Regions from separate parts of the Homo sapiens genome. Here region 1 is linked to region 2. The links come from fine-mapping of genetic effects on gene expression. A gene starts in region 2. The other region holds a variant in brackets. All regions are shown on one strand. Distances are from middle to middle.

Evidence for each region. PIP is the estimated chance that this variant, and not a neighbour inherited with it, causes the effect.
Region 1: its variant is fine-mapped to the expression of LINC00639 in whole blood (TOPMed, PIP above 0.99).

The regions. Positions count from the first base shown.
Region 1 is chr14:38,826,247-38,829,175 of GRCh38, forward strand. The region is part of intron 4 of LINC00639 (long intergenic non-protein coding RNA 639); the gene reads right to left. Among named protein-coding and RNA genes, the nearest start is that of LINC00639, 89 kb to the right of the region's middle. The variant G/GA (reference allele first, on the strand shown) is at 1,731.
Region 2 is chr14:38,915,519-38,918,447 of GRCh38, forward strand. LINC00639 (long intergenic non-protein coding RNA 639) reads right to left here and starts at 1,364. Exons shown (of 5, transcript NR_039982.1): 1 at 1,264-1,364. The region is part of intron 4 of LOC105370457 (a long non-coding RNA gene); the gene reads left to right.

The DNA of each region.
Region 1 (2,929 bases), 89 kb before region 2:
GTTAGTTGTTACATTGGCATCGTGAAGCTCTTTCAAAACCTTCTGCAGTGGTTCCACCAAATCCTAATATCAAGTACATACTGAATTTACAAACAATTCTAAAAGAAAATTAATCAAAAAATCCTTGTGGTTCCATACATTGAAACAGAATAAACACAAAGCCCTTTGTACACAAGGCTGCCTTCCTAACCAACGCTTAGTGCAAGTAGGTGAACTACTTTAATTACCCAGAAAATTCCTTTTTAAAATGTGATTGCTATATTTGAAAGAAAAAAAATAACAATTTACAGATCTTAGTACTCTAAATACAATGTTTTGTGAAAACAGGTAAGTTTTATGTTTGTGGATTAACCAGGCTGGTTTTTAAATTGTACTCTACAGATCAGAAGCGATCAGTGAGAACCTCTCTTTCTACATGTAGTGCTGCCGCTGGGAAGAAATCGGTCATCATGAATATTCATTGGACACCACCAAGTGCTACACCAGACTGAGATGGAGAAGGAGAAAGAGAAATGGTCCATCAAATTAGAAGAAAAGCCCTTTTCATGATTTATGAAAAAGAGAACTATTAAACCTTATGCACTACAAGATTTTATGTCTTTTATGTCAACCTATGAATAACTTTTCCTCTGCAATATTCCAATTTTATTTTCCCTTTAATAATACAACTTTTAAGTACTAAGGATACATAAGATACTTTGTATTAATGATGCTTAGTCAGTCATGGATGCCTGACTTATTAAGGAATACTCAAAATATTCAAATATTTATGTTAGTAAATCTGCTTCAGACTACAAGGAAGAGTTGCTATCTGACTGCTTATGCAATGCTGCTCTGTCCACTACCTTCCTGTCTTTTTTTAAATTAGGTTCTATTGCCCAACTTGCCTGTTTTAAACATTTAGCCAATGTCCTTGAAGTGTTTTCATCATTATCAAGTAAAAATCTGAAAATGAGAATAGTATTAGTATCTACAGCTCTCTATTTTTGTCTTTAACTTATCATGCACCTATTTTGTGCTATTATATATATTCAGTATCTTGCATATAACCTTATTTAAAGAGTATAGCATCATTGTAAAGCAGATACATTAAGGTGTCTGTTTTACAGATGAAGAAATCGAGGTTCAGCAAGGACTTGCTCAAAGTCACACAACTGGCAAGTGACAGAGACTGGATATGAACTGAGTCAGACTCCAAATTTTGACTCAAAAAAGACACTACCTTTGTGCTCTATAAAGTGCATTCATTAGGGCCTTTATCATGCCAGTCTGTCAGCAATTGTGTTCCCCCTGGCTCGGAGCCTTTCCTCCACACTTCAATCAAATAGAAATCCCTCATTGCAGTTGAGAACTAAGTGGAGTTACTGGCCCAAAGCATTCAGGTTAGCTCTATGGATAGTTTCCAAGTTGACCAAATCGTAACTGACCTGTTGAGAGACACAGGTGATTCAGGAGATAATTTTTTTCATACTATACTGGGAGGTGAATGGTAAAAAATACCATAGGATGAGGGAAACAAGGGGAAAATGAACAAAAACGATATCCATTATAACTACATAAAAAGAAACTGGCACACCAAACATCAGTGTTATTATGAAGAACTATTCACCATCTGAATCTGACCACAGTTAGAAAACCTGCCACATCACAAGCGCCTTGGATAATAAAAACATCTATTTCAAATGTTTTCCTAAAAAGCATTTTGAAAGAATAAATAAGATTTCAAAATA[G/GA]AAAAAAAAATCTAACTGCATAAACTGAACACAATGCTGAATGCTATCCTCATCCAAACTGTCTTTCCTTTATCTTACTTATCACCTTCAATATACAATAAAAGTTCAGCCACAAAATCAGCTTAGAAAGGAGAATTACCTGGCCTAACTGCATAGATTGATTTGATAGTGAGATACTTTCCTGCAAAGACATTTATGTGTTATCTGGAAGAACTTTTAGCTCTTCATTTTAAGTTTTACCAGCGATTGATTTATTATAGGAAAAAGATTCAATTTTTCCTCTTATGCTCAGCAATGTGATTTTTTTAAGAAACAACAAGGCGAGCATGAGAGTTCGTGTCTGTAATCCCAGCACTTTGGGAGGCTGAAGTGGGTGAACCACTTGAGCCCAGGAGTTAAAGATCAGCTTGGGCAACATGGTGAAACCCCATCTCTACAAAACACTTAGCTAGGGGTGGTGGCACATGCCTGTCATCCCAGCTACTTGAGAGGCTGAGGTGAGAGGATCATCTGAGCCCAGAAGATCAAGGCTGCAGTGAGCCATGATTGTGCCACTGCACTCCAGCCTGGGTGACAGAGATAAGAGCCTGTCTCAAAAGAAAAAAGACAGGTTCAGTTCAAATAGGAAATCAGCATCTGTGGTTTCAGCTGGATTTCCCAAGTTACAGGGTTCACCTTCTGAATATGCTGCTATTCTTCCTCTTTTTGACGTTTCTGCACTTCCTAAGATCTCTAGCCCATAATCTTGCTCTAGAGACTACCATCTTTGAAACCTAACTCTCTCGTACTCTTACATACATTTTTGGTTTAGATGCTCATTGCCTAACTCTCAAACTAGAACTCTTGTTCTTCTTGAGCAAGAAATCTTTTCCTTCCTATTTACTTTTGTTTTTCCAAAAGCTGGCACAAAATTAGCACTTAAAAATAACTTTTGGCTAGCTGACTATTTCAAGAGTTCCAAATGACTTGGACGGAGACACAATTTTAAGTCATCAAAGGTCCATGACAACATATAAACATTGGACTGTTTCAAGATGGAGGTCTGACTGGTGGTTTTTCTTCCCTTTTTTGGTGCAATAGAATTTATATATTTAAACATTAGGTCAGTTACCTAAAATAAGTTAAACATTAGACCAGTAACCTAGAAAGAAAACTTGTTTTGAGGTTGCTAGTAATTTGGGTTCCAAGTTTAATGAGCC
Region 2 (2,929 bases):
GCTAGACACAGTGGCCCACACCTGTAATCCCAGCATTTTGGGAAACCAAGGTGGACAGATCACTTGAGCTCAGGAGTTTGTGACCATCCTGGGCAACATGGCAAAACCCCATCTCTACAAATAATACAAAAAATTAGTAGAGCATGGTTGTGTATGCCTATAGTCTCAACTACTTGGGGGGGCCAGGCAGGAGTTTGTGACCAGACTGGTTGACAAAGTGAGACACTGTCTCAAAAAAAAAAAAAAAGAAGAAGAAGAAGAAGAAAGAAAAAGAAGAGCTGGTACCATTTCCATACATCTTCTGAAGTCTAGGCAGGGGGTCTCAAACCTCAGTTCTTGACTTCTGGGCACCCACAGGCTCAAGACCACATGGAAGCTACCAAGGCTTGGTGCTTCCACCCTTTGAAGCAACAGCCCAAGCTGTACCATGGCCCCTTTTAGTCAGGGCTGGAGTGGCTGGGACACAGGGCACCAAGTCCCTAGACTGCACACAGCACAGGGACCATGGGGCTGGCCCACGAGAGCATTTTCTCCTAGGCCTCTGGGCCTGTAATGGGAGGGGCCGCCATGAAGACCTCTGATATGCCTTGGAGACATTTTTCCCATTGTCTTGGGGATTAACATTTGGCTCCTCATTACTTATGCAAATTTCTACAGCCAGCTTCAATTTCTCCTCAGGAAACCGGTTTTCTTTTTCTATCAAATTATCAGGTTGCAAATTTCCCGAATTTTTATGCTCTGCTTCCCTTATAAAACTGAATGCCTTTAACAGCACACAAGTCACCTCTTGAATGCTTTGCTGCTTAGAAATTTCTTCAGTCAGATACCCTAAATCATCTCTCTCAAGTTCAAAGTTCCACAGATTTCTTGGGCAGGGGCAAAATACCACCAGTCTCTTTGCCAAAACATAACAAGAGTCACCTTTGTTCCAGTTCCCAACAAGTTCCTCATCTCTATCTGAAACAGCCTCGGCCAAGACCTTATTGTCCATATTGCTATCAGGCTTTTGGTCAAAGCCATTCAACAAGTCTCTAAGAAGTTCCAAACCTTCCCACATTTTCCTGTCTTTTTCTGAGCCCTCCAAACCATTCCAGCCTCTGCCTGTTACCGAGTTCCAAAGTCACTTCCACATTTTCAGGTATCTTTTCAGCAGCACACCACTCTACTGCTACCAATTTACTCTATTAGTCCATTTTCTTGCTGCTGATAAAGACATACACAAGACTGGGCAATTTACAAAAGAAAGAGGTTTATTGGACTTACAGTTCCACATAGCTGGGGAGGCTTCACAATTATGGCAGAAGGCAAGGAGCAGCAAATCACATCTTACATGGATGGCAGCAGGCAAAAAAAAAAAAATGACCCTGTTCAGGAAAATTCCTGTTTTTAAAACTGTCAAATCTCGTAAGACCCATCACTATCATGAGAACAGTATGGGAAATACCCACCCCCATGATTTGATTATCTCCCACTGGGTCCCTCCCACAATACATGGGAATTATAGGAGCTATAAGATGAGATTTGGGTGGAGGCACAGAGACAAACCATATCACATGGAATCAACCTATATGTCCACCAACAGTAGACTGGATGAAGAAAATGTGATCAATATACACCATGGAATACTATGCAGTAATAAAAAAGAAAGAGATATGTCCTTTGCAAGAACACAGATGGAACTGGAGGCCACTATCCTTAGCAAACTAATACAGGAACAGAAAACCAAATACTGCCTGTTCTCATTTATAAGTGGGAGCTAAATGATGAGAACACATGGACACACAGAGAGGAACAACACACACTGGGGCCTTTCAGAGGCTGGAGGGTGGGAGAAGGAAGACAATCAGGAAAAATAACTAATAATTAAATAACTAATGGGTATTAGGCTTAAGATCTGGGTGACAAAATCTGTACAACAAACTCCCATGACACAAGTTTACCTATGTAACAAACCTGCATTTATACCCCTGGACTTAAAATAAAACTTTTAAAAAATAAACAAATGATAATAGCAGATTATAGCCCATTAAATAAACTAGGAATTCATGAGTTCAAATTACATAAACAAACAAATAATTATTCCTTACATAAGAATGCTAATTACTGTATGCAGAAGGAAAGGTAGAATTGGAAGGTCATTATTTGGCAACTATTATAGTAGTAGTTGATTGAAGAAGAAAGCATCAAATGATGCTGAATCTGAGTGAAGGTTTGATGACAACCAACATGGTCTCAAATTATCTCCCCACAAAGTGCTGTTAACTGCAAAGGGGAGATGAGTTACTTTGCAGTCATAAATGTTGTATCACTGGGCACAGTGGCTCATGCTTATAATCCTAGCATGTGGGAAGCTGAGGTAGGCTATTTTCTTTTAGTAATTTCATGGCTTGTGGTCTTAGATTTAAGTCTTTAATCAATTTTAATTTGACTTTTGTATATGGCAAGAGATAGGGGTCTAGTTTCATTCTTCTGCCTATGGATATCCAGTTTTCCAAGCCCCACTTATTGAAGAGACTGCCTTTTCTCCAACATATATTCTCGGTACCTTTGTTGAAAACAAGTTTACTGTAGATGTATGAGTTTGTTTCTGGGTTCTCTATTGTGTTTCATTAGTCTATGTGTCTGTTTTTATGCCAGTACTATGCTGTTTTGGTTACTGTAGCCCTGTAGTATAATGTAAATGACAAGTTAACCAGTGCAGCACACCAACATGGCACATGTATACATATGTAACAAACCTGCACATTGTGCACATGTACCCTAGAACTTAAAGTATAACAAAAAAAAAGAAAAGAAAAGAAAGGAACAGAGGAAAAGGAGGAAGGAAGGAAGGAAGAAAGGAAGGAAGGAAAAGAGGGAGGGAGGGAGGTTGTATTAAAATGAGAAAATTGATTAGTTCACAAATTATGCATTAAAAGGCCCACAGTTT